Linked DNA regions of Homo sapiens. The protein of the gene in region 2 purifies or fractionates together with the protein of the main gene of each other region. This does not show direct contact. Each region holds a gene or a part of one and is shown on either strand. Other genes may lie near its edges. The genes, in order: MCM10, CKAP2 and MAP7D1.

Evidence for each region.
Region 1: the proteins of CKAP2 (region 2) and MCM10 purify together in Homo sapiens (affinity purification with mass spectrometry; one large-scale study listed by BioGRID and IntAct). This does not show direct contact.
Region 3: the proteins of CKAP2 (region 2) and MAP7D1 purify together in Homo sapiens (affinity purification with mass spectrometry; one large-scale study listed by BioGRID and IntAct). This does not show direct contact.

What each region holds. Positions count from the first base shown.
Region 1 is NC_000010.11:13,206,479-13,209,155, forward strand, and holds part of MCM10 (protein MCM10 homolog), read left to right. Parts: intron 1-2,612; coding exon 2,613-2,655; intron 2,656-2,677. UniProt on the Homo sapiens protein: Acts as a replication initiation factor that brings together the MCM2-7 helicase and the DNA polymerase alpha/primase complex in order to initiate DNA replication. Additionally, plays a role in preventing DNA damage during replication.
Region 2 is NC_000013.11:52,458,431-52,462,081, forward strand, and holds part of CKAP2 (cytoskeleton-associated protein 2), read left to right. Parts: intron 1-2,465; coding exon of another isoform or gene 2,466-2,468; coding exon 2,469-2,544; intron 2,545-2,627; coding exon 2,628-3,496; intron 3,497-3,651. UniProt on the Homo sapiens protein: Possesses microtubule stabilizing properties. Involved in regulating aneuploidy, cell cycling, and cell death in a p53/TP53-dependent manner.
Region 3 is NC_000001.11:36,176,542-36,180,192, reverse strand, and holds part of MAP7D1 (MAP7 domain-containing protein 1), read right to left. Parts: coding exon 3,612-3,651; intron 3,497-3,611; coding exon 3,351-3,496; intron 2,321-3,350; coding exon 1,992-2,320; intron 1,775-1,991; coding exon 1,597-1,774; intron 1,509-1,596; coding exon 1,370-1,508; intron 1,273-1,369; coding exon 1,168-1,272; intron 932-1,167; coding exon 878-931; intron 682-877; coding exon of another isoform or gene 679-681; coding exon 636-678; intron 528-635; coding exon 437-527; intron 320-436; coding exon 126-319; intron 1-125. UniProt on the Homo sapiens protein: Microtubule-stabilizing protein involved in the control of cell motility and neurite outgrowth. Facilitate microtubule stabilization through the maintenance of acetylated stable microtubules.

The DNA.
Region 1 (2,677 bases), on a different chromosome or scaffold from region 2:
CCAGGGTCGATCCAGAGATCTGAGGGAGGGAGCCAGGAAGCCGGGCTAGTTCATCACTTTACCAGGAGCTGGCTTGCCAATTTTTCACAATCTAGATTATAATTTTTAAGTAGTTATTTATATATTGATACTTGACTTTTTTCCAAACTAGATGACTAAAAATGTCATTATAGCAAGAGCTTATGGAAAACGTTAGAAAAATTAAAAAAAATTCTGTTTATTAAGTACAGGGCACAAATGGAAGGGCATGATGCCTTTCAGCCTCCAGATGGCACTGTGATTGTAAGAACCATGTTTTTTCTGGACTTTTTGTCAGTTGCTTTTTTTTTTTTCCTTCTTTTTTTGAGACAGGGTCTCACTCTGTCATCCAGGCAGGAGTGCAGTGCCATGATCATAGCCCATTGCAGCCTTGAACTCATGGGCTCAAGCGATCCTTCTGCTTCTGCCTCCTGAGTAGCTGGGACTACAGGTGTGCACCACTACACCCAGCTAATTTTTTTAATTTACTTTTTTTTATAGAGACAAGGTCTCACTATGTTGTCCAGGCTGGTTTCAAACTCCTGGGCTCAAGTGGGCTCAGCTGCCCAAAGTGCTGGGATTGCAGGCCTGAGCCACCATGCTTGGCTAGTTCTTGATCTAGAACAGAAGGCAGCACACATTGCCTGTAAAATGTCAGTGGTGAATATATTAGGCTTTGTGGGCCAGATGATCTGTCACAACCACACGGCTCTGCTGGTGCAGCCTGAAAGCAACCATAGATAATACACAGGCAACTGGGCACGGCTGTGTTCAAATAAAACTTTATTTATAAAAACTGGTGATGTGCTGGATTGGGGTTGTAGTTTGCTGACTCCTAACTAGAATAGTGATTTTTTTTTTCTCACAATTTTATCATTGATCGACATATAGGCTACCAGAGTTCTCTTCATTGATACTGAACCAGTCTCTAGAGGTGGAAGGTGATGGTTGGGAGGTTGTAAGGGCTAAGGCCACTGGCGTGCCACCTTTCAGGGCAGAAATTGTGATATGGTTTGGCTGTGTCCCCACCCAGATCTCATCTTGAATGGTAGCTCCCATAATTCCCACAAGTTGAGAGAGGGACTCAGTGGGAGGTAATTGAATCATGGGGCAGGTCTTTCCCGGGCTGTTCTCATGAAAACAAATAAGTCTCATGAGATCTGATGGTTTTATAAAGGAGAGTTCCCTGCACACACTGTCTTGCCTGCCGCCATGTAAGACATGCCTTTGCTCTTCCTTCGTCTTCCACCATGATTGTGAGGCCTCCCCAGCCATGTGGAACTGAGTCCATTAAACTTCTTTCCTTTATAAATTACCCAGTCTTGGGTATGTCTTTACTAGCAGCATGAGAACAGACTAATGAGAACGAGTAGACTCTAAGCTAGGTAAGGGGAAGGGGAGACAGGCAGAGCATCCCCACCCCACCCCAACCCTCTGAAATCCAAGTAAGCAGGCAGACATACTTCCTTAGCTTTATTATATGTCTTCTCTCTTTCTCTCTCTTTTTCCCAGAGTAAACTTCATAGGAAATAAGTTTTCACCATAGTGTTCACATCCCTTCTCAGGGTGGAAGTCACCCACCATTTTAAAAACTAGAGCAAGAAGGGCTGGACTTGGTGGCTCATGCCTGTAATTCCAGCAGTTTGGGAGGCTGAGGCAGATGGAACACTTGAGCCCAGGAGTTCAAGACCAGCCTGGGCAACATAGTGAGACTCCCCATCTCTACAGAAATTTAAAAATGAGCTGGGCATGGTGGTGTACACCTTTGGTCCCAGCTACTCAAGAGGCTGAGGCAGGAGGATCACTTGATCCCTGAAGATCAAGGCTGCTGCAGTGAGCTGTGATCGCACTACTGCACTCCAGCCTGGGCCACAGAGTGAACCCTGTCTCTAAAAAAAAATAAAAACAAAACAAGAGTCCCTGGGCCCTTTGAATAAAAAGAGAGTAAAGAGGCTGGGCACAGTGGCTCACGCCCGTAATCCCAGCACTTTGGGAGGCTGAGGCAGGCAGATCACTTGTGCCCAGGAGTTTGAGGCCAGCGTGGGCAACATAGCAAAATCCCATCTCTCCAAAAAAAAAAAAAAAAGGAAAAGAAAAGAAAGTGAGTAAAGGCTTTTGGGTTATAAAGAGAAAGGGAGAAGGATGATCCAGACTAGAAAGAAGATTATTCCTTTCTTAGCTCAACCTTTTTGCTCCAAAAAAAAGAGGAGGAAGGGGCCAAACATAGATTATCCTGCACCAGAGGGCCAGCTCCTTAAATCTGAGTCTCATCCCAACCACCATCATTTGTAAAAACCAAGGGTGCATTCATTACCTGCAGTGCGTGGATCCCTGTGGTGCCATCATTATCATTTGAAGCTCCATCTCTGAAGCCTCTAGCTTTGTAAGGACCTACAGACCACTTCCCAAGTCATTGCAGGTTTATTTTTGTCGCATTTGAGCATAACCTCAGATTTGGCATACAATACGAATGTCACCTTGAACAGCTTCTCCTTGAATGGGGGCCTACTCTCCCCAGGTGCAGTGAGCACCGTCGTCTTTACATGAGTGGGCCTACACCACCCTGCTGAGTAAATCCATCTGTTCTGTTTCAGTAACTGTGGCCTCTACAAATGGGAACGGGACGGAATGCTAAAGGTATGCCATTTGCGTACTAATT
Region 2 (3,651 bases):
GGATTCAGACAGTGACTCTCAACCACTTATTTAAATAAAGAATCCAACAAGGTCAGGGGTTTATAATACTCTTAATAGGAAGAAAAGAAAATTCTAAAACGCTTCATGTGGCTTAAGTACTACATTTATTCCTTTCAGAAAACAGATGTTGGCTGGGTGCAGTGGCTCATGCCTGTAATCCCAGCACTTTGGGAGGCTGAGGCGGGTGTATCACTTGAGGTCAAGAGTTCTAGACCAGCCTGGCCAACATGGTGAAACCCCGTCTCTACTAAAAATATAAAAATTAGCCGGGTGTGGTGTCAGGCGCCTGTAATTCCGGGGAGGGCCGAGGCAGAAGAATCGCTTGAACCTGGGAGGCGGAGGTTGCAGTGAGCCAAGATCAGGCCATCGCACTCCAGCCTGGGTGACAAGAGCGAGACTTTGTCTCAAAAAAAAAAAAAAGGAAAACAGATGTCAATTTAAATGTTATCACCTCAGCAGTGAATCATTAAATAAGACAACCAACCTGTGTTGCAGCTTTTCAGAATTAAACAGTTATATTTTACAATCTCTAAAGTATAGATATCCTAAGACTCATTTCCGATAACCCTTCTGAGGGCAGTTTTATAATAAGACAGAATAGGATTAAGTCTCCCCACTGGACAGGTGAGTAAGATGGGTTCTTCTTGTCATCCTGAGTTTTGTTTTGTTAGCTGGCAGTTAGCTACTAAGATACCCTGTTAAGTGGCACATTTTGATCTTCCTTCACCATTGTTCAAAATGTATAGTACAGGTTGTGTCAAAGTTCTGTTCCTTCTCCAAGCTGACAGAACAAATAGATATGAAAGGCAATGTAAGCAAAATTATTAACTACTAAATTATGTCAAATGTAAAATATATATATATATATTTTGTTTTGTTTTGTTTTTTTGAGACGGAGCCTTGCTCTGTCGCCTAGGCTATAGTGCAGTGGCGCGATCTCAGCTCACTGCAACCTCTGCCTCGTGGGTTCAAGCGATTCTCCTGCCTCAGCCTCCAGGGTAGCTGGGATTACAAGCATTTGCCACCATGCCTGGCCAATATTTTTGATTTTAGTAGAGACAGGGTTTCGCCGTGTTGGCCAGGCTGGTCTCAAACTCCTGACCTGAGGTGATCTGCCCACCTTCTCTACCCAGAGTGCTAGGATTACAGGTGTGACCCACTGTTCCTGGCCTCATTTTTTTTTTCAGAGAATGAGAGATCACGCATTTTAATGTGATCTCTGAACTTAGGATCTGTCTTAAAATCAATGGCATGTCTAATTGACCGTATTTTTTCCTATCGTTATAGTACACAAAATTGTTAAAATCACTTGCTAAGAGATGCTCACAGTCTGCCTTAGCCAGTTTATAGCTGTAAAAATAAGTTAAGTCAGTTTCTTGAGGAGGGATTTTCTTTGCAATACCGCCTAGAAACTAACGTTCTTTTTTTTGAGAGATGATCTCATTCTGTGTCACTCAGCCTCTAGTGCAGTGACGGGATCTTGGCCCACTGCCTCAACTCCCAGGCTCAAGCAGTCCTCCACCCCAGCCTCCCAAGTAGCTGGGACTATGGCACCCACCACCACACCCAACTAATTTTTTATTTTTTTGTAGAGATGGGGTTTTGCCGTGTTGCCCAGGCTGCTCTCGAACTCCTGAGCTCAAGTAATCCCCCCACCTCGGCCTCCCAAAGTGCTGCTATTACAGGCATGAGCCACCACAACCAGCAGTGCATATTCTTAATGTATCCTAATATAAATTAAGCTGTGAATGGCATATGGTAATTTTTGGATCACTTCTGGGAGGGCTCTTTAATAAAAGTATTTTCAATGTAGTACATCTGTTACTAAGTACTTAAAACTAACCCAAGGAGGTATTACTTACTAAAGGTTATTTGAAGACTTGTTTGAATGACTTGAGAATGATTTGAAATAAGATTATTAAGTATTTACAAATTCTATGGGCAGAGAGTGTTAGGACTTTTAGAAAATATCTTTAAATTCCTCAGCCATTTGTTTACACTATTTTTTTTTGAGACAGAGTCTCTCTCTGTCACCCAGGCTGGAGTGCAGTGGCTCGATCTTGGCTCACTGCGAACTCCGCCTCCCGGGTTCATGCCATTCTCCTTCCTCAGCCTCCCTAGTAGCTGGGACTACAGGACTACAAGCGCCCGCCACCATGCCCGGCTAATTTTTTGTATTTTTAGTAGAGACGGGGTTTCACTGTGTTAGTCAGGATGGTCTCGATCTCCTGACCTCGTGATCTGCCCACCTCGGCCTCCCAAAGTGCTGGGATTACAGGCATGAGCCACCGCGCCTGGCCGCTTAGGACAAATTTCAACTCAGGTCTTTTTTAAATTTAAAATTAGTAAGTCAGTTAATTGTTAACATTGCCCTCTTCTTCCTCCCCAAAAGGAAGCCTCCTTGGTACAGGATTGATTGATCATTTTGTTTGTTTGTTTTTAAGTAGTAGAGATCAGAGAGTTGTGACATCTGAGGACCAAGTTCAAGAAGGGACTAAAGTGCTGAAACTTAAAACAAAAATGGTAAGATGTGGACATAGCACTCTTAAACTGTCCCCTTTTCCATTTTGCCTTTCCTAAACACTTTTCTTAAATAATTCTTTCAGGCTGATAAAGAAAACATGAAGAGACCTGCAGAGAGCAAAAATAATACAGTGGTGGGGAAACATTGTATTCCTTTAAAACCTTCAAATGAACTAACCAATTCAACTGTAGTAATTGACACACATAAACCTAAGGATAGTAATCAAACTCCGCATTTGTTACTAACTGAAGATGATCCCCAAAGTCAACATATGACATTAAGCCAGGCATTTCACCTTAAAAACAATAGTAAAAAGAAACAAATGACTACAGAAAAACAAAAGCAAGATGCTAACATGCCCAAGAAACCTGTGCTTGGATCTTATCGTGGCCAGATTGTTCAGTCTAAGATTAATTCATTTAGAAAACCTCTACAAGTCAAAGATGAGAGTTCTGCAGCAACAAAGAAACTTTCAGCCACTATACCTAAAGCCACAAAACCTCAGCCTGTAAACACCAGCAGTGTAACAGTGAAAAGTAATAGATCCTCCAATATGACTGCCACTACTAAATTTGTGAGCACTACATCTCAGAACACACAACTTGTGCGACCTCCTATTAGAAGTCATCACAGTAATACCCGGGACACTGTGAAACAAGGCATCAGTAGAACTTCTGCCAATGTTACAATCCGGAAAGGGCCTCATGAAAAAGAACTATTACAATCAAAAACAGCTTTATCTAGTGTCAAAACCAGTTCTTCTCAAGGTATAATAAGAAATAAGACTCTATCAAGATCCATAGCATCTGAAGTTATAGCCAGGCCTGCTTCATTGTCTAATGATAAACTGATGGAAAAGTCAGAGCCCGTTGACCAGCGAAGACATACTGCAGGAAAAGCAATTGTTGATAGTAGATCAGCTCAGCCCAAAGAAACCTCGGAAGAGAGAAAGTAAGTAGATATAATTTTCTTTATTACATTAGTTTTCAATAAAGTACTGTTTGTAGATTTGGATTATAATTTCCTTGACTGCATTAGAATTTTCTTTCATGGTTTCTCTTCTGTCATATGCAGGCAAATTTATATTGTGGAACAATATGACCTAA
Region 3 (3,651 bases), on a different chromosome or scaffold from region 2:
GCTGGGGGTCTTCAGGGTGGAGCAGGAGAGGGTGCCTGGCAGAGCCAGAAGAGAAGGCAGGGCTGAGGAGTACAGGGAAGGCTGCTGGGAGGAATGGAGCTGGGTCCAGGAATCAGGAGATCTACCTGTGACCTGCGGGGACTGCACCACAGCTTTCTTGAGGAAGGCTTCTGCCTCTGCAAAGGGCAGGAGTGTCTCTGGTGTTCGGCTCAGACTCTTGTCCCCAGAGGGTCCGTTGGTGGAGAAGCCATTCTCCTGGTGTGCTGGGAGAGGCTGCAGGCCATTCACCAGGGACGCTGGCAACTCCTTGCTTGGGAGACTGTGGATGCAGAGGCCAAGGCTCAGCACCTCACCTCCCAGGAAAGCCCAGGCCACCCCGCAGCTCCAGCTGCAGTCTGCCTCCCTGCTCAGGGACCCTGGGATTGGAAGCTGGTACCTCCACTGAGGCTCCTGTGGGATGGGCTCCTCTTTCTGCACAGCCTCCTTCTGCAGCCCTGGGGACCGAGCCTCCACAGCTTTCACAGGCTCTGTCACAGGGAAAGAGGGGCCATCAGCCAGGGGCTGGCAAGAGAGGTGAGGATGGAGGAGGAGGAGGATGGCAAAGGGAAGGGAGGCGAGAGGAATGGGGGCTTTACCTGGGCTGGAACCGTTGGCGTTGGCCTCCTTGCTGTCCTGCTTCTGCTTTGAAGAGGAAGAGCAGTCAGGCTCAAGGGACAGCCGGCCCCAGCCACTTCGGACTGAGTTCGGCCCTCCCCTTGCCCGGGCCGCAGCGGCCTCCCTGACAGCCTCGCTCTCCGTGGCCATGGATGCCTTTCCGCAGCCTCCTTTTCACACCCTGCCCCCCACGCCCAGCACTGCCCTTCGGGGGAATTCTGACCTTGGTTTCAGAAACTTCTGACTTCCGAGTCCTCTTCATGATCTCCTCCAGACGCTGTTTGGAGGCCGCAGATCAGTTAGGCTCGAGCCCCGCCCCTAATCCTAAACCTCCCACCAGCCAGACCCGGCCTCGGAGTCTTAGGGCCTCCCAGCTCATAGCAGCCCTCTCCAGGACAGGAACTGGAATTTGCCCCAGCGCTTTCCCGTCCTGTCCGCTCTAAGCCCAGGCCCCGCCCACCTGGCCCGCCCTGCCCAGGCCCCGCCCACAAATCCCCGCCCAGGTCCGCACACCTTTCTGCGCTCTTGCCGCTCTTGCTCCTGCTGCTGGAAGTGCTTTTCCCGCTCCAGACGCTGCCGCTCCGCCTCTTCCCGCGACCGAGCTTCGGCCTCCTCTTTCTGCCAAAGACCCCCATGAGCGTGGGGCACTTGACTCCAGCCTTCCCTCCCGGCCCGCGGCGCCCGCGCCCAGCCGCTTCCCGCCCGCCGGGGGCACCTGCTTCTGCAGCCGCTCCTGCTCCTCCTGCTCGGCCTGCGCCTTCTCTCGTGCCTCCTGCTCCTCCCGCCTCCGGGCCTCCGCCTCCCGCTCCGCCCGGGCCTCGGCCTCCCGTGCCAGCTGCTCCTCTCGCATTCGCCTGGGGGACGGAGCAAACGGCTCAGGCTCGGCCTCTGCTTCTTCTCCAGCGCCCACGAGGGCCCCCTCAGTCCCCGAGGCGCACTCACTTGTCCCTTTCTGCCTGCAGCCTCCGCTCCTGCTCCTCGCGCTCCCGCTGCTCCCGGGCCTGGCGCCGCTTCTCAGCCAAGAGCCGAGTGGCTTCTTCTCGGTCTGTGGTGCCGGCCATTGGTTTGCTAGGGGTCACCGGGGGAGCAGGGGCTGGGGGTGAGGTCAAGACAGCAGCGTCTGGAGGGGGATCCGGGATCAGGCGTCAGCACACCCACGCAGACACCGCCGTCATCTCCCAGCGGCCTGTGTTCTGGGCCTGGGACTGCTGAGGGCAGGAGTCTCCTCTTTCCATGTCCCACTCCCAGTCCTCAGGCATCTCTGGCGGCCCACACCCCCACACAGGAGAAGCTGGCTTCTCTCGCTCGGCCCACCCCTCCCCTCTCTTCATTCCTACCTGTAGGGGTCTCCGCGGGGGGCTGCTCCTTCTGGGGCGGGGCTGGGGTGGGCGAGGGCGCCGGCGAAGGTGCCGGTGAGGCTGGGGCTGCTGACTCCTTCTCGTTACTGGCCCTGCGCTTGCTCTGGCTCTTGTCCTCGGGCCCTGCGGCGCTGGGGCTCTCCTTTGCCTCCTCCTTCCTCCGAACCCGCCCCTTGGGGGATGCAGTGGTGCCTCGGGGGGACGGTGGCTTTGGAGGCAGAGTGTGGCCTGGCCCTGGGCTGGGGCAGGGGGAGGCAGGCCTGTGCCAGGATGTGGAGGGAGAGGATGGCCTGGCCTTGGATTTGGGGCTAAGAGAAAAGGGAAAAGGGAAGGGTTAGGAGACACACACACCCACACGCTGAGAACTTGTTCCTTCCTCTGGGAGGTGCCCCCTCCCCCAGGCTACATCAGCGCCGCCCCCCGCCCCCTTGCTCTCACAGAAACACACCATTCCCTTTTAGAGCATACACCCCAGTTTGTAATGACATGTTTCTGTGGGATTCTTTGATTATTGTATGTCCCCCGCCAATAGCCTGTAAGCTTAATAAGAGAAAAAACCATGCTTGGGTTAGCTCAGCAACGTGTCCTCAGCACCCTGAGTGCTACCTGACAGGTCCATTCATTCAGCAGGTTTTGTTGTTGTTGTTGTTGTTGTTTTTAAGACAGAATCTGGCTGACCCCCAGGCTGGAGTGCAGTGGCATCATCATACATAGCTCACTACAGCCTCGACCTCCTGGGCTCAAGCAATCCTCCCCTTGGCCTCCCAAAGTGCTGGGATTACGGGCGTGAGGCACTACCCTGGCCCTTCAGTAGGTATTCACTGAGTGGTTACCAGGTGCCAGGCACTATTTTAGGTGTTGGGGTACTTCAGTAACCAAAACACTTAAAAAAACAAAAACAAAAACGAACAAAAAGAAAAATGGAGGCTGGGCGGGGTGGCTTACACTCACACATGTAATCCCAGCACTTTGGGAGGCCAAGGCGGGTGGATCACCTAAGCTCAAGAGTTCAAGATCAGCCTGGACAACGTAGCGAAACCCCCACTCTACCAAAAATACAAAAAATTAGCCGAGCGTGGTGGCGCGCCTGTAGCCCCAGCCACTTGGAAGGCTGAGGTGGGAGGATAGCCTGAGCCTGGGAGGTCAAGGCTGCAGTGAGCCGAGATTGTGCCACTGCACTCCAGCCTGGGTGACAGAGGGAGATCCTGTCTCAAACAAAACAGAGAGAATCTGCCCTCAGGGAAGTTGCATTCTAGAGGTGGTTGCCCAACAAATATTTGTGGGTGATGAATAAATGACCCGGTGAGGGGCAGGGTCCCTCGCACCGCCCGCGCCCACCTGAGCTCAGAGGCGGTGCTGGCAGAGAGGCGGGCACGTGGGGAGGCGGGCAGCGACTGGCGCTTCTTGAGGCTGCGCTCCCGGGCTAGGGCACTCTTCTCCTTCTCGTTTTCCCGCTCCTTGTCCTTCTTCTCCTTTTTCTGCACCTGGCAGGGAAGGAGGAACGGAAGAGGAGAGTAGAGGTCAGCAGCGCCCGCGTACCCCAGTTCCAGGCTGCCTGTCCCCACCTGCGCGGCCACTCGAGCCAGTAGAGCCACTCACCGGCGAGGCCTCCGGCCGGCGGCGCACCGGAGCGGGGCTG